Linked DNA regions of Homo sapiens. The protein of the gene in region 2 purifies or fractionates together with the protein of the main gene of each other region. This does not show direct contact. Each region holds a gene or a part of one and is shown on either strand. Other genes may lie near its edges.

The links. The genes of interacting proteins can lie anywhere in the genome.
Region 1: the proteins of CT55 (region 2) and SYNM purify together in Homo sapiens (affinity purification with mass spectrometry; 3 studies listed by BioGRID and IntAct, with this or other methods). This does not show direct contact.
Region 3: the proteins of CT55 (region 2) and USP4 purify together in Homo sapiens (affinity purification with mass spectrometry; 3 studies listed by BioGRID and IntAct, with this or other methods). This does not show direct contact.
Region 4: the proteins of CT55 (region 2) and CNOT11 purify together in Homo sapiens (affinity purification with mass spectrometry; 3 studies listed by BioGRID and IntAct, with this or other methods). This does not show direct contact.

What each region holds. Positions count from the first base shown.
Region 1 is NC_000015.10:99,103,866-99,107,879, forward strand, and holds the start of SYNM (synemin), read left to right. Parts: upstream 1-1,214; 5' UTR 1,215-1,334; coding exon 1,335-2,144; intron 2,145-4,014. UniProt on the Homo sapiens protein: Type-VI intermediate filament (IF) which plays an important cytoskeletal role within the muscle cell cytoskeleton.
Region 2 is NC_000023.11:135,167,950-135,173,513, reverse strand, and holds the start of CT55 (cancer/testis antigen 55), read left to right. Parts: upstream 1-2,115; 5' UTR 2,116-2,342; coding exon 2,343-2,436; intron 2,437-3,735; coding exon 3,736-3,920; intron 3,921-5,564. UniProt on the Homo sapiens protein: Plays a role in spermatogenesis, possibly acting in the regulation of the autophagy pathway.
Region 3 is NC_000003.12:49,333,554-49,337,053, reverse strand, and holds part of USP4 (ubiquitin carboxyl-terminal hydrolase 4), read left to right. Parts: intron 1-1,457; coding exon 1,458-1,585; intron 1,586-3,500.
Region 4 is NC_000002.12:101,251,442-101,255,685, reverse strand, and holds the start of CNOT11 (CCR4-NOT transcription complex subunit 11), read right to left. Parts: upstream 2,801-4,244; 5' UTR 2,722-2,800; coding exon 2,208-2,721; intron 1-2,207. UniProt on the Homo sapiens protein: Component of the CCR4-NOT complex which is one of the major cellular mRNA deadenylases and is linked to various cellular processes including bulk mRNA degradation, miRNA-mediated repression, translational repression during translational initiation and general transcription regulation.

The DNA of each region.
Region 1 (4,014 bases), on a different chromosome or scaffold from region 2:
ACTCCAAATGAAAGAAATTCGTTTTGGAAAATGTAATGTACTATGAGGGTAGCTTGTATAAGAAGGGCAACTGGGACTCCTGTCAACTGACATCAAGAGAAGTATTTTGCACATTAAAATACTGGTAAATGGATATATATTTATGTTTTAAGTTAAAAAGATTATTTAGGCTGGGCACGGTAGCTCACGCCAGTAATCCCAGGACTTTGGGAGGCCGAGGTGGGCGGATCACCTGAGGTCGTGAGTTCGAGACCAGCCTGACCAACATGGAGAAACCCCGTCTCTACCAAAAATACAAAAAAAAAAAAAAAAAAAAAAAAAAAAAATTAGCCAGGCGTGGTGGCGCTGGCCTGTAATCCCGGTTACTCGGGAGGCTGAGGCAGGAGAATCGCTTGAACCCGGGAGGCGGAGGCTGTGGTGAGCCGAGATCGTGCCATTGCACTCCAGCCTGGGCAACAAGAGCGACACTCTGTCTCAAAAAAAAAAAAAAAAAAATTAATGCACATGTATGTGTAATGTATATATATGAGATGAGGCCTCTCTCTGTTGCCCAGGCTGGAGCGCAGTGCCACAATCAGGTTCACTGCAGCCCTGAACTCCTGGGTTCGAGTAATCCTCCCGCCTCAGCCTCCCAAGCAGCGCGTGTGACACCACCACGCCAGGCTCCATATATATATATATATATATATATTTTTTTTTTTTTTTTTTTTTTGGTAGAGACAGGGTCTCTCTATGTTGCTCAGGCTGGTCTCGAACTCCTGGGCTCAAGCGAGCCTCCCACCTCGGCTTCCCAAAATGCTGGGATTATAGGCCTGAGCCACCGCGCCCGGCCCATATCGTTTTTTTAAAAATAGAAAAGCCACCAATCTCCAGGGCCTCGGGTAAGAAGTCGCTCCAAAATCGCCAGCACCACAGCAACTCAATAGGCTTCTATTTCCATCCACCAAGGCCAGGACACTCGTATGCTCCCGGACGCCCTCTCCGGCGTCCCTTCGCTGAGCCCGGCCTGGCTAGCCCGCCACCCCGCCCGCTGTTACCCGACTGCCCGCACCGACCACCTGCGGCCGCCAAGGTGCGGCAGGGGGCGCTGTGCGGCCGCAGAGGCCGCGCCGGGCCGCGCTCTGATTGGCTGGAGGCCGCGGCCCTCGCCCAGGCCGCCCGCCCAGTCTGCCCGCCCCGTCCGCTAAGTGCCTGGGCTCTCCCGCTCGCGTCCCAGTCTGCGGGCCTCCGGGGCAGCGGCGAGGCCGGAGCGTCGCGGCGGAGAGGACGAGACCGGGACAAGACCAGGGCAGGAGGGAGCCGGCCAGCCGCGAGAACCCCGCACGCCCGGCAAGATGCTGTCCTGGCGGCTGCAGACGGGCCCCGAGAAGGCCGAGCTCCAGGAGCTCAACGCCCGGCTCTATGACTACGTGTGTCGGGTGCGGGAGCTGGAGCGCGAAAACCTACTCCTGGAGGAGGAGCTGCGCGGCCGGCGCGGGCGAGAGGGCCTGTGGGCCGAGGGGCAGGCCCGCTGCGCCGAGGAGGCGCGCAGCTTGCGGCAGCAGCTGGACGAGCTGAGCTGGGCCACTGCGCTGGCGGAGGGCGAGCGGGACGCTCTGCGGCGCGAGCTGCGGGAGCTGCAGCGCCTGGATGCGGAGGAGCGCGCCGCCCGCGGCCGCCTGGACGCCGAGCTGGGTGCGCAGCAGCGCGAGCTGCAGGAGGCGCTGGGCGCGCGCGCCGCCCTCGAGGCGCTGCTGGGCCGGCTGCAGGCCGAGCGCCGAGGCCTCGACGCGGCCCACGAACGCGACGTGAGGGAGCTGCGCGCGCGCGCCGCCAGCCTTACCATGCATTTCCGCGCCCGCGCCACCGGCCCCGCCGCGCCGCCGCCACGCCTGCGGGAGGTGCACGACAGCTACGCACTGCTGGTGGCCGAGTCGTGGCGGGAGACGGTGCAGCTGTACGAGGACGAGGTGCGCGAGCTGGAGGAGGCGCTGCGGCGCGGCCAGGAGAGCAGACTCCAGGCGGAGGAAGAGACGCGGCTGTGCGCGCAGGAGGCAGAGGCGCTGCGGCGCGAGGCGCTCGGGTTGGAGCAGCTGCGCGCGCGGCTGGAGGACGCGCTGCTGCGGATGCGCGAGGAGTACGGGATACAGGCCGAGGAGCGGCAGGTCCGTGCGCGGGGATGGCGCGCTGACCCCATACCCGCTGCCGTCGCCCCAGCACCCTGCCCTTGACGGCGTGGGGCAGCGGCCCCTTCACCAGGGGCGCGGCGTCGCGGACCGGTAGGGCCCGCCCAGAGGGTGCCCGAATGGCATGGGGACCCGGACTCGGTCCGCTGGTCCATCGACTCAGCGGGCGAGCGCGGGGCGGCAGGTCCTAGCGGATAGCCCCGTCCTCGTCATGGGGTTAGGTGGCAGCTGCTTTAACTCTTGACAAGCGTGACTGGGCGCATCCTGATAGGCCACCCTGTTAGCTCTAGGTTTTCCTTCCATTTTCCGTGCTCCGTAGACTCAGTAGACCCAGATCTAAGAGTCAACCGAGAAACCTCTCTCACTTGCAGAAGTGACGGCTTATGGTAGCCCCGCTGTCTATAGCGCTCCTCAGGGGAAAACTCAAATTAATTTCCAAAACGGTTTTTATTTTGCCAATATGATTTCCCAGTTGGAAGCCGCAGTTGTGGCTCTCTGGGCGGCTGCCTTGTTTGATCTTGGGAGGGGCAGCAACCCTCATGCAGAACAGAGCTTGATCGAAGATGTTTTGCTCACAGCACACGCTGACGTCAGATCTCTGCGTAGTGTAAAAGTTGTGGGAAAGTGGGGCCCTTTGGCAGGATGTTATTACAAGTGCAGAGTGATATAAACAGTTACTATTTCAGGGAAGCAAACCCTCTGACACCGGCGGGGTGACACCTGTGGCTGATGTAAACTATGCCCAGTCCAGCCCTAGCGTTTGGCCCTCGCCCTGCCCTGCCTCAGCCAGAATTGGAAATATTCCCAAATCACACTATCAGTAGTTCTCAAAAGGACAGATGGAAATAACATCTGCACAATTTCACAAATATTTTAAGAGTACAGTTTGCAGCTGTGAGTTAAAGATTTGAGACTGACTTTTAAAAATTAGAAGTGAGAGGAACATGGGGGTTGTCATATGGAATGACTGCGGTGATGTGACAGGTATCCACAGGTGATGAGTAAATACCTGTTGATTCTCCCTGGGTCCCCAGCACTGCCCTAGACTTTCAGTATGCAAAGAGCTACAGGCTAGATGGGAAATCATAGAATGCAATATGGTACTACATTGGGATTTAATCTTTTGAGTTGTGGGTTTTGTTTGGCTTCCGCCTCATAACTTTTCAAAGTGTTCTCTTGGGGCTTTGCCATAGCTAGAGCAGGGACAGGGACTGACCCAGTGTGTACCGATTTCCACTTGTGAGCACTTGTGTCCCTTTGCAATGACAGTGGCCAGGGGTCTGAGTTCCACAGGTCCTATACTCGTTGTTGAGTGAAAGTTAAAAAGTGCCTTAATGTGGCATTCATGGAGATTTGACCAGTGGTTATTTTGACTCTCCAAAAAGGAGTATCTGTCAAACCTACTGCCCAGGGAACCCCTTTGTAGGGAACCCTCGCTACCAACTCAGGGGTCTGTGCTGTGCAGGCAGGTTTAGAAAATGCTGCTTTGAGCCACGCTGTGTGGACCAAATCGTCACCATGCGTTCACAGCCACAGCTCACTTGGCACATTTCAGACCTTCAAATTCTGGTTCCAGTGTTCTTTCTTAGCGGCAAAGCCCTTTTCCCCACTAATGAAACCTTCAGTGGAACTCGTAATGTGAGCCATATGAAAGCAGAGTTCCCCTGACTGGAGGAGACATGGGGACTTGAAGTGCAGTTAGAATCCTGTGCAGCCCTCCTTTGACACAGGGACTCCAGGGCCCACCGGGGAAGTGCTTTTCCTGAGGTCATACCTGCCCTCAGAGTGAGGCTGGGACCCCACTCTCCGTTTGCCATCCAGTGATACTTCTCTCTTGTTGGAATTTGCT
Region 2 (5,564 bases):
AGATTGTTGATGCAGGATGAAGAGAGGCAACAGCAATAGAAGCAACATCCTCAGAGAAAATGTGTCAAGAGAATGGTTCCATGTGCTCAGTGGAGTTTCAGCCCTGGCCAGGGGCTGCGATGTCCTTCCATTGTTACAAAAGAGAAGGAAGAGAAAGCCAGGATGGGTGCCAGGAGTTTCACAGAGGGGCTCCTGTTTCATGGCCTGTGTTTTCTCAGAGAAATAAGAGGAAATGTGTGCTTACCTGTGTGTCCTAATTTTTCATTGATAATCATAGAATATTGGAGTAATCAAAATTTACAAGAGCAGTTGCTGTGGGTTGAATTTTGCCCTGAAAGAGATATGCTCAGGTTCTGAGCTCCAGTACCTGTGAATGTGACTTTATTTTGAATAGGGTCTTTGCAAAAAAAAAAAAAAAAAAATCAAGTTAAGATGAGGTCCTACAGGATTGGGATTAGTCATATACCCTTAATCCAGTGAGTGGTGTCCTTATAAGAAGAGGTGTATTGGACACACAGACAGATGGAGAAGAGCACCATGATATGAAGGAGGAAGAGATTGGAGTGATGCATCTACAACCGAAGGAAGCCAACCGATGACTACTGGCAACCTACGGAATCTTGGAATAAACTCTCCCTCAGAGCTTGCCAGAAAGAACCAACCTCACGGAAACCTTGATTTCAGACTCATAGCCTGCAGAACTGCAGAAGAATAAATTTCTGTTGTTTAAAGCCACGCAGTCGTAGTAATGTGTTGTGGCCTCCCTAGGAAATTAACACAGTTGTGTTACATTTTGAGACATAGATAGCCCTCAACCGATCCTGTTAACCAGATGATAATCTTCAGCAATGCTCTTACCTGTTCTCACAGTAGGAGAGGAAAGACAAACAGGTTTCATCCACAGTGCCCATGGATTGCATCAGAATCATCCAAACTGTTCTCCTTGCTTCCTGCTCTGACCTCTTCCAGCCTGTTCACAACCAAGCACCTGGAGTGATCCCTGGAGGCTCCAAATCCTTCAGGGACTTTACGTGTCATGGACAATAAAAGCCAAAGGACTTCCAGTGCCCCACTATCCCACATGCAGCCTGAACCTCTATTATCTCTCTTACCATACTTCCCACTCTTCTAGCTATTCACTGCCTCTGCTCTAATCACTGCTTTTCTTTGAATACATCACGCACAGTCTTGCTGTATGGTCTTTGCACAAACTGTGCCCTCCGTCTGAACGGCTCCTCCAAAAATAGCTGCCTGGCTAACTCCAACATCTTTCTCAACTATTGCTTTCCAATGAGGGCTACTCTGACCATGCTATTGTAAAGTGCAATCCAATACCCCATGCCCAGCACTGTGGATCTCCCTTGTCCTGCTATATTTTTCCATGGCATTTATTGCCTTCTAACATACCATATATTTTATTATGTGATGTTTAGTGTCACCCTTTCGTCATCCTGTGAAAAATCTACCCTCACAGGGTGAAGATTCTTGACTCTTTCATTCATTAACAAATTTTAGGAACACAGAACAGTGTCTGGTTCACAGTTAGTGCCCTACAAGTTTTGCTGAATGAATGAATAAGGGTAATGTGTATATCAGAGTAATGTAAGCATAACCAGGTAAGCGATGAGTACATGGTAGCAATGATCATAAAAGGATTCTATTATAAATTATCACTGGACTAAAAATGGCAGTCCTAGTACACAAGACACGTACTTGCCATCACTAAAACATTGCCTACCCACATGATGCCCTCTCTCCACAAAATTGATCCCTGGTGAGGAGTAACTATTGACCGCCCACTGAGTGGTGACTCCTTATGCTAAGCACCACGAATACAAGGGCAGGAGCAGGATTTTTGGTTGCACAGCCGGTGTTTCAGGCACCCATCCTCCCAGGGAACCCAAGAGAAGAGCCCTGTATCTCCTTAGTAAATGCAGAACCCAAGCTCCCAAGCCATTTTCCCCAGGCCATCCTAATGGCTCCCTCAGCCTTGATGGGAGAAGCCACGATGTTCCCACCCATCGCCTTTTAGTAGCCACAAGAACCTGCCCGCCCACCCACTGCACGCCCATTGGTTGGACAGTGGTAGAGGCGGGCCCTGACGAGCGCATGCTCAGAGGGAGAAGTCAGCGGAGAAGCTGGGAGCTCCTTTGGAGGCTGCGGTGTCCCTGACTCTCCTGAGGGGGGCTCACTAACGGGTGGGTCCCATGCCACAGTGTCTGAGGAGAAGCAGGAAGTGAGTCCCTGAGGAGACGCCGTGACCTGAGGGCTTCCCTTACTGAGGAGGCCTCGTGCTTCATCTGCCACAAGCGGTGCCCAGGCCGGTGGTGACAACTGGGACGATGCTCAGGCTTCTGAGACTTGCTTTGGCCTTCTACGGGAGGACGGCCGACCCTGCAGAGCGACAGGGCCCACAGCAGCAGGGCCTCCCACAAGGTATTCCTCTGTGTGTCCCCTTGTCCCCCACCCCAGAAGCCTCCCAATAGGGGTTCTCCTCACCCCCGGAATGAGGCTGTTGTAACTCGGGTGGGTACTGCACGTGACGGTGGCTCCATCTTGTGCGTGCATGGGGAGGCAACCCGAGGCAACCCGAGTCCTCAACAATTCCCTGAGAACCAACCCCCAAACTCTCCTGTCCATCTAAAGCGGGAAGGTGTTGACAGAGAAGACCTTGGGGTCTGTACCGCCTGTGCTTTTCCCCCACGTGGTCGCACAGCACATGCCTATTTATATTTCCAGTAGGCGAGAAACTCCCTAATTTGCGAGTTAATTTAGGCTTGTATCCCAAACGGGAATGTAATTTGAAGCCAAGTTGATGCCTCATACTTATCTGATCCCAAAGGAAGGCAGAGAACCCCTGCCGGCGACTGCTGAGGTTTGATCCCTAAGTATTGCTGATCAGCTAGGCTTGTGCAGAATAAAAAAAAAAGAAGAAGAAGAAGAAGGAGAAATAAAGAAAACCATTCAGATGCCGTTTTGGGCTAGCCTTCAATCTCCAGATATCTTTTAGTACTTTGTCTGCTGAGATGGTTAAGTATCTATAGAAGGTGCTACTCATCATGTTGGTGATAATGATGAAGGAATATAATAGGAGCAGAAGCTTAAAGACTCATATGTAGAAATGCTAACAGGTAACATTTACACACTCTTGTGCAAGGCACTCAGAGCTCTCGACAGTTGATGTGCATGTGTCAGTTAATATTCGTAAGCTGGGCGCGGTGGCTCACACCTGTAATCCCAGCTCTTTGGGAGTTCCAGGTAGGTGGATCACTTGAGGCCAGGAGCTGGAGACCAGCCTGGGCAACATGGCAAAACCCCGTCTCTATTAACAATTCAAAAATTAGCTGGGTGTGACGGTACACACCTGTAGTCCCAGCTACTGGGGAGGCTGAGACATGAGAACCACCTGAACCCAGGAGGCAGAGGTTGCCGCTAGCCCAGATTGCGCCACTGCACTCCAGCCCCGGCGACAGAGCCAGACTCTGCTCAAAAAATTAAAAAATAATTAAAAATTAAAATTTTTAAATTTTAATAAATTTTTAAAAATATTTTAAAAACCTACAACAACCCTATTAGGCGAAATTGTGATTGTTGTGGATTGACAGATGAAAACAAGGTCAGAGACGTTATAAAACTTCTCTGCCCAGGGTTATGCAGATGGTGAGTGTAAGACTTACTTGTAGTAGGTGTTTGCATTTGAGGCTAATAATGTGACCTTGTTTCTTTATCTTGTAGGTGACACCCAGTTGACAACTGTGCAGGGAGTTGTCACAAGTTTCTGTGGTGATTATGGCATGATTGATGAGTCGATCTACTTCAGTAGTGATGTTGTGACTGGCAACGTGCCTCTAAAAGTTGGACAAAAAGTTAATGTGGTTGTGGAAGAAGATAAACCACATTATGGATTGAGAGCAATCAAGGTGAGATGTGCATGAGTTTGGGAATTGTGTCTTATCCCAGTGGGCTTTCTTTCTCCATCTTTCTTTTCTTGAGTTAATCCGACATCTCTGCTGTGATCCGTAGAGTGGATGTAGACTGCAATTTGAAGCCCCCCTCCTCTGAAGCTGTAGCTTCTTCTGTTGTAATATTTGTAGTAATTTGTGCTGTAAAACATAAAAGCTTACTTATCTATTATTCTAGTCTTTAAACAATATGAGTAACAATAATAATTATTGAACTCTTTATAATCTTACAACTTCCCTTATCAGGTAAAAAAACATTTTCTGTAGTGTGCATTCAAAACAGTGGAATTTCTATGTCAAGCCATGTGCATTGTAAATATTTTAAAAAGAGCTTCATGGAATTATAATTCACCAACCACAAAACTCTCTTAAGGGTACAATTCAATAACATTTGCAGATTTACGGAGTCCTGGCAACATCACCTGAGCCCAGATATTTGCCCATTCAGTGGCTATTATGAAATTATTCTTTAGCTCTATTGTACTAATTGATTCTCTCAGCAATAGGAGGTGAGACTGCCCATCTGCCCATATAGGCAAGGACAACAATACTATCGATCTGAAATCTTTGCACATATGAGAAAGGAAAAGCAGTCTCATCATTCATTTGGAATTATTAAGGGTCTTCATGAGATTACAGTAAGTTTTATTTCTTAGACCTACTGATACAATAGGGATATTTATGGCTATCTCTATGGTAGGAAAATTAGATTTGTAATAGGAAAGTTTGTGTATGAAGCCCTTGTAGTATTTCGTCTGATACCATCTTTTTCCTTTGCTTTATGTCTTTCATTCTTTTACAGCATTATTGAGATATAAGTCACGTGACTATACAATTGGCCCACTTAGAGGGAACAATCTAGTGGTTTTTAATTTGTTCACAGAGTTATGCAATCATCACCACAATCAACTTTAGAACATTTTCATTACTCAAAAGGAAGCTCTTCGTGCTCCCCCAACTGTCCCCTCCCCCAACAACATCCAGCTCCAGGAAATCACTTATCCACTTTCTGTTTGTATATATTCTGGACAGTTAAAAAAGGTTCCTTCTATACAACTGTAATTATATGTTCTTTCACCAACATCTTCTCATTCCTCTGTCCACCCTAACAACACAAGCGTCTGGTAACCACCATTCTACTCTACACTGCTATGAGATCAACTTTTTTATCTTCTGCATGTGAATGTGACCGTGCAGTATTTGTCTTTGTGTGACTGGCTTATCTCACTTACATATCATTCTCCAGGTTCATCCAGGTTATTTCAAACGGCAATATTCTGTTCTGTTTTATGGCTGAATAGCATTCCCTTGTGTATTTATACCACATTTCCTTTATACACTCATCCGTAGATGGACACTTAGATTGCTTTCATTTCATAGCTATTGTGAATAGGGCTGCAACAAACATGGAAGTGCTGACATCTCTTTGACACACTGATGACACTCTCTTTGGATACATGCTCAGTAGTGGGATTCATGGATAGTGTGATAGTTCCATTGTTAAAATATTGGGGAATGTCCATACTGTTTTCCATGGTGGCTGTAACAATTTACATCCCACCAACCGTGCATAAAGCTTCCAATTTCTCCACATCCTTGCCA
Region 3 (3,500 bases), on a different chromosome or scaffold from region 2:
CTCGGCCTCTCAAAGTGCTGGGATTACAGGTGTGAGCCACTGCGCCTGGCCTTGTGTGTACATTTTTGGAACTCCTTTGGTCCTTAAAGGAAAACTGAAGTGGGTGGTGTTTCTAACCCATTTTCAGAAAGAGCATTAGTTTAGTGCTGTTCATGTCAAGCAAAACAGTGTAACCAAACTGTCTGCCTGGAGTGGGACTTCTGTAAAGATCATTATGAAATTAATGACTTGTGGCCGGGTGCGGTGGCTCACGCCTGTAATCACAGCACTTTGGGAGGCCGAGGTGGGCAGATTACCTGAGGTAGGGAGTTTGAGACTGTCCTGACCAACATGGAGAAACCCTGTCTCTACTAAAAATACAAAATTAGCCAGGTGTGGTGGCACACACCTGTAATCCCAGCTACGGGAGACTGAGGCAGGAGAATCACTTGAACCCGGGAGGCGGAGGTTGCGGAGAGCCGAGATCACACCATTGCACTCCAGCCTGGGTAACAAGAGCGAAACTCTGTCTCAAAAAAAAAAGAAGTTAATGACTTGTTTATTAGCAAACATGATTTTACCCATGAAAAGACTCCATTTAGACTGAGTGTGGTAGCTCATGCATGTAATCACAGCACTTTGGGAGGCCAAGGCAGGAGGATCACCTGAGATCAGGAGTTCGAGACCAGCCTGGCCAACATGGTGAAACTCCATCTCTACTAAAAATACAAAAAAATTAGCTGGGCCTGGTGATGCATGCCTGTAATCCCAGCTACTTGGGAGGCTGAGGCAGGAGAATTGCTTGAACCCAGGAGGTGGAGGTTGTAGTGAGCCAAGATCATACCACTGCACTCCAGCTTGGGCAACAAGAGCGAAAACTCCGTCTCAAAAAAAAAAAAAAAAAAAAAAGAGGCCAGGTGCAGTGGCTCATGCCTGTAATCCCAGCACTTTGGGAGGCCGAAGTAGGCGGATCACCTGAGGTCAGGAGTTTGAGACCAGCCTGCCCAACATGGTGAAACCCCGTCTCTACTAAAAATACAAAAATTAGCTGGGAGTGGTGACAGGTGCCTGTAATCCCAGTTAGTCAGGAGGCTGAGGCAGGAGAATCGCTTGAACCTGGGAGGCAGAGGTTGCAGTGAGCCAAGATTGTGTCACTATACTCCAGCCTGGGCGACAGAACAAGACTCCGTCTAAAAGAAAAAAAAAGAAAGACTGCATTTAAATAAGCATTTTGAAACCACTTGTTTTCTTTCTTTTATTCACTCTTTGAACAATCATTTCACTTAATGGATGCATACCCTGGGCCAGACTCTCTGTGCCATGTGGGGCCTGGGCCCTGCTCTTGCTCTTGTGACAGTGTTTTTTAGTGGGTATTGCATATGCCCCAAGTGGAAGGACCATAAAAAAGATTAAGGAAGCAGCTGCAGAAATTTATAATCTCAGCTTTTCTGCTACAGTAAATTTCTGTCTCTCTCTAGGTATCTTATTGACAGCCGGTGGTTCAAGCAGTGGAAGAAGTATGTGGGCTTTGACAGCTGGGACATGTACAATGTGGGTGAACATAACCTATTTCCTGGCCCAATAGACAACTCTGGGCTATTTTCAGGTATAGTAAATGTTGCTTTTCTAGCTAAACATTCACCTGGGCAGTGGCCTGATGTTATGTGCATCTGTAACATGGACGTTGTGAACTTTCCTAGTGTGAGGAGATAGAAACAAGTATCCTCATTTTGCATCTATAGCAGAAGTCTTTGCAAACCCTTAATGAGAAGTTAAGCTACTTTTTTCCCTTAAATTAACTGCATCTGATAAGAGTATGCTTCTAACATTTTAACTTTCTCTCTTTGCAAATTAGTTCTGCTAGCTATTTCACATTTTAAGTTAGTATATGGAATGGAAAGAAATAGGATGTCATTTTGAAATTGTATCTAAAATTTAAGAACCAGAATTTTTTGTTACCTTTGCAGTGGAACAAATTGTAAACCTGTGAACTTTCATCAAGAATTCCTGTGATGGCTGTTTTTATCATATAACTAGTGTGAGGAGAGGTTGAAGGTCAGTAGACAGAGTTATGACTGTAGTCAGCTCCCAATGGGAACTGTGGGAAAAGCGACATGTAACACACTAGAGCTTGCTTGCACTTGTACATGCACTGAGATGACAGAGTCAGCTTTTCCCAGGCTTTCTTTTGCCTGACTTCAGACCTCTTTAAAGTCATGATAGAGGTGATCTGTCATGGGTGTCAAAAATCAGGGCAGTGCCAGGAGTGGTGTCTCACGCCTGTAATCTCAGCACTTTGGGAGGCCAAGGCAGGTGGATCACCTGAGGTCAGGAGTTCGAGACCAGCCTGGCCAACATGGTGAAACCCCGTCTCTACCATGTTGGCTAGGCTGGCCTTGAGCTCCTGGGCTCAAGCTATCTTCCTGCCTCAGCCTCCTTAGTCACTGAGACTACAGTGTTCTACCACTCTCAGCTGTTTTTTAAGTTTTTTGGTAGAGACGGGGTCTTGCTATGTTGCCCAGGCTGGTTGAACTCCTGGCCTCAAGCCATCCTCCCACCTTGGCTTCCCAGAGTGTTGGTGTGAGCCACTGTGCCTGGCCTAACTTGGATATTTTTAAAACTGAGCAATGCTTCAGCTCAGACCTTGTTTTAGGAGAGGTCTACATGGTATAAACAATATCATTTACTTTGTTTCCTGAAATAGGTCAAATGGTGGCACTATGCCACGAAGTTGCCCTAAGGAATCATTTCATTATGTTCACATTTTGTTCTTTTTCTCATTTTTATGAAATGGAGAATTCTTAAGGTTTTAAATTCAGGCATACTTTGGCTTATTGTGCTTTGCTTTATTATATGTTGCAGATACTGCATTTTTAGCAAATTTTGTAGGTATTTGGCAACGCTGCCTTGACAATCTGTCAGTTCCATTTTTACAACAGCATGTGCTCACTTCATGTCTCTGTTACCACATTTTGGTAATTCTCAAAATACTTCAAAGTTTTTCATTATTATTTGTTATGGTGATCAGTGATCAGGGAGCTTTCTTTTTTTTTTTGAGACGGAGTTTTGCTCTTGTTGCCCAGGCAGGAGTGCAGTGGCATGATCGTGGCTCATGGCAACCTCCACCTCTTGGGTTCAAGTGATTCTCCTGCCTCAGCCTCCCGAGTAGCTAGGATTACAGGCATGTGCCACCACGCCCGGCTAATTTTGTATTTTTAGTAGAGATGGGGTTTCTCCATGTTGGTCAGGCTGGTCTTGAACTCCCGACCTCAGCCTCCCAAAGTGCTGGGATTACAGGCATGAGCCACCATGCCCAGCCAACAGGGATCTTTCATGTTGCTATTGTAATTGTTTTGGGGCATCATGAAGGGAGCCCATGTAAGACAGTGAACTTAATTGGTAATTATTGTGTGTATTCTCGCTGCTTCACCAACCAGCCATTCCATCTCTCTCTCTCTCCTCAGGCTTTGCTATTGCCTGAGACACAATGACACTGAAATTCGGCCACTTAGTAACCCTAA
Region 4 (4,244 bases), on a different chromosome or scaffold from region 2:
TCAGAGTCATCTGAAAAGCATTCTGAAGACATACCCACTAAATGTCTTACCCTAAACATACAATATCAGCAGCTCTGGGAGTGGAGTGTAGGCACTGATATTTTCTCTTCTATGTTATCTACACACCATCCCTACCTACTTTAATAATGGTATAATAGTGGGTAACACTCACAGGTACTTTTTTTTTTTTTGAGACGGAGTCCCGCTCTTTAGCCCAGGCCGGATTGCAGTGGCACAATCTTGGCTCACTGCAAGCTCCGCCTCCCAGGTTCACGCCATTCTCCTGCCTCAGCCTCCCAAGTAGCTGGGACTACAGGCGCCCGCCACCGCGCCCGGCTAATTTTTTGTATTTTTAGTAGAGACGGGGTTTCACCGTGTTAGCCAAGATGGTCTCGATCTCCTGACCTTGTGATCCGCCCGCCTCGGCCTCCCAAAGTGCTGGGATTACAGGCGTGAGCCACCGCGCCCAGCCCACTCACAGGTACTTTTATTCTTTGTAACAACTCTACCAGCTGGGAATTGTTACTATTTGCATTTTACAGATGAGGAATCTGAGGCACAAAATGGTTAAATATAATCCATCCATGGATTCCTTCTCTGGTGACTGCCATCCCACCTATGGCAAATCTGTGTGTATAATGCGGTCTACGGACTAGGTGTGGGTTTAGATTCACTGTACATGAGAATGACATTATATAAGTCACGGTTTCTTTGCCTCACTTGTTCTTCAGAATTCAAAGGGCCCTCTGATCTAAATCCCAGTGTCCCAATCCTCTAATACAAGCACCCTAGGGTGGTGGTTGTCTGTGTGTGTGTGTGTGTTTAGAAGCTGTCACCCTAACTCACTGCAGCCTCAAACTCCTAGGCTCAAGTGATCCTCCTGCCTCAAACTCCTGAGCAGCTGGGGCTACAGGTGTTAGCCACCCCATGCCCAGCAAATTTTTTATTGCTTTGTAAAGACAGGATCTTACTATGTTGCCCAGGATGGTTTCAAACTCCTGGCCTCAAGCAATTCCCACCCCCCAACCTCCACCACTTCGGCCTCCAAAAGTGCTGGGATTATAGGCGTGAGCCACCTAGCCAGGCCTAGGTGGTGAGTTTTGACCACAAACCTGTGTTACATTCACTTTCTGGGCAGTCACAAGCTTCTTAGAAGCAGGTTAAGTACCTGTACCCTAAAGGCATCTCAGGCCAATACAAAGGGTTGCCCTTCTTAGATAAGGGCACTACAGGACACCTATCAGAAGATCCTGATGGGATGCCCGGCAGGAACACTAACTAGAAACGCGGCCCTCCTGTACCATAAAAACAAACTCCTGGTGTTACTTCAAAATCTACTGCCTAGCCTTGACTCACTGTATAGCAGGCCCTACCTATACTGGTTAAGGAATGTAAGATCAAGCTGTTTCCTATCTCTGTGTGCTTCCTCCACTACACTGGTTCCTAAATCCTTCAGGTCCCGTTGTCAACATGCCATTTTTCTTGTTTTCTGACTGCAAGTCTTCTCGCAAAGCAAATCCACATAAAGCATCACCTGCTTGAGCTTAAAAACAAAAAAAAATGCAGCCTCGCATCTAACCTACTAGTTTGATCTCACCAATGCCACACAATAGTAAATACATTTTACATAATGTATACCACGTATGCACTTTACATAATGTCCAGTAAGTCATGTGTTTCCAAACGCGAGATCATCAATTTGAGACTTTCTATCCTCTGCCCCCATCCCTAACAGGCTAAGAAAGGCGGCTGCAAAGTCTTTAAGGTGTTTCATGTGTATTTCCGCCCACCAACTTCTTCAGCTTCTTAATACTGACTTCCACGTACTCCTTTGAGACTAAAAACCGGGGACAGATCCAGTCTTATCATTGGTTTTAACTTCACACACCACAGACGGGTTTTCGAAGAACGAACCGTATTTGAGACACTAAACATGTCAAGACCTACACTGAGCTGTATGATGTGATGGGGTGTATAGAGAAATCATTTTCGGTGTCACGAACTTGCAATTAAGCTACCACCTCTCCATTCTTTAGAGTTAAGGCGGGGAGGAGTGAGGGGCGTGGGAACGCAGAGAGAGGCGGAAAAAGAGGATGATCATTTCACAGGGATAGTTAATTTCCCTTTCAGGTGAGTTCCCAGCAGCGCAGGTGGAAAGCTGCGGAATCTAACGCTATCCACACGGCACAGCTGGCTTCAGGAGGTACCTGAGAGCGGAGGGCGGTCGGGTTCCTGGCCGCCGCGGGCGGGCGGCGCGGGGTTGAGCAGGTGCGCGAAGCTGGCGGCGAAGGGGTTGGCGGCCAGCGGCTCGGTGCGGTACATCTCCCAGAGCAGGTAGAGCGCCGTGAGGCGCTGCGCCGCGCTAGGCAGCAGGTCGGGCTGCTGGAGCAGCATGACGAGCACCGAGCCCAGGCGGAAGTGGTCGGCCTTGCTGAAGTAGTGGTGGAAGGCGGTGGACAGGCCCTCGAAGGTGCTGCCGCCGCCCGCCTCCTCCGATATGATGCTCAGCAGGCTCGAGAGCTCCTTCGGGGTCAAGCTCATCCTGCCCGCGGGGCCCCCCGGGCCTCCGCTCCCGGACCCGGGGCCGCTTGCTCCGCCTCTGCCGCCGCCGGAGCCCCCGAAGCCGCTCCTGGACGCCGACCCTGCCGCTTCCCGGGACCCTCTTTGCTCCGCGGCGGTGAGAAGCCGGCCAGACGCCGCGCTCGCCCCTCCGCCGGGCATCAACCTCGCTCCCCTTCCCCTCTTCCCGGCCCGAGGGGCCCTGGCGCCGGCTCGCTCCGTCCCCGCGGCCGTAAAGCGCGCTGTTACACGACAGCGTCGCAAACAAAACACGTCGGGGAAACCAGACCGCCGCGGAGAGGGACAGCGCCCAGCGAAAGCGAGGCTGATGGAGCGAAGCCAGGAAGAGGATGCGGAGACGCGGGGTAGGCGGGGCGAATTGGCAGGAAGCGGGGGCGGGGCCCGGGAAGGGAGGGGAGGGGCGGGGCGAGGTCGGGCTGGTGGCGTTCAGGGTTAGGTCTGCCGAGGTCCCGCGGCAGGAGAGCCCGGGGACTGCATGCGTCTGCGCAGCTGCGAGGTTAAGCCGCCCTTTGGCGGTCCCCAGGACGGTTCCTGGTGCCAGACGGTCCCAGTAAGTGCTGTCTACGTTATTATTTGGAAGAATGCACCTCAGATGTTAACTATTTTCTTAATATAACATCCGTAAGTATTCGTCGTAAAAAGTATTGTAAATGCAGGCCGGGCGTGGTGGCGCGTGCCTGTAATCCCAGCACTTTGAGAGTCCTAGGCGGGAGGGTCGCTTGAGCCCGGGAGTCCCAGGCTGCAGTGAGCTGTGATCACCACTGCATTGCAGCCCGGGCGCTCTGTCTCAGAAACATTTTTTTTAATTTAGTAAATGCAAATATACCACACATTTCACATAACCACGGTTAATTTCTAGTCTTACACTCATTGCAGAAATGGAATCATACTGCACTATGAGCTTTTTTGTACATGGTTTTTTCTCTTAACATGATTTCGAGAACATGTCTCCAGTTAATATTCATTTACAAAATTGTTTGCTGTGCCACGTTTTACTTAGATTGCCCTAGGGCACTTATCCTGGGCACTTAGCTGTGCATTAGAAACCCACGGGGAGACGTTACAAATACCTAGTTCCACCCCCAGAGATGCTGATTGAGATATTAATAAACCCCACCTCTTCAGGTGAGTCTGAGGTGTAGTCTGGGCTGAGAACCACCAGGTGGCATTTCCCAGACTTGCCCGGTCCCTAAACCTACAGAAACGTACGCGTATTTCGCCAGTGATTACCACCAGCGATTCTAATTATCTAGTTAAGAGCCACCTCAATTCTTTTTTAAAACATATTTTTATTTTATTTTATGTGTTTTTGGGGAGAAAGATATTTTATGTAAAAAAAATTTTTTTCATCTTTTTAAAACTTGTATTTCAGTAGTTTTGGGGGTACAGGTGGTTTTTGGTTACATGGATAAGTTTTTAGTGGTGATTTCTGAGACTTTGGTGCACCCGTCACCAGAGCAGTGTACGCTGTACCTGTCAGGCCTCTGAGCCCAAGCCTGCACATATACATCCACATGGCCTGAAGTAACTGAAGAATCACAAAAGAAGTGCAAATGGCTGGTTCCTGCCTTAACTGATGACATTACCTTGTGAAATCCCTTCTCCTGGCTCAGAAGCTCCCCCGCTGAGCACCTTATGACCCCCGCCCCGGCCTGCCAGAGAAC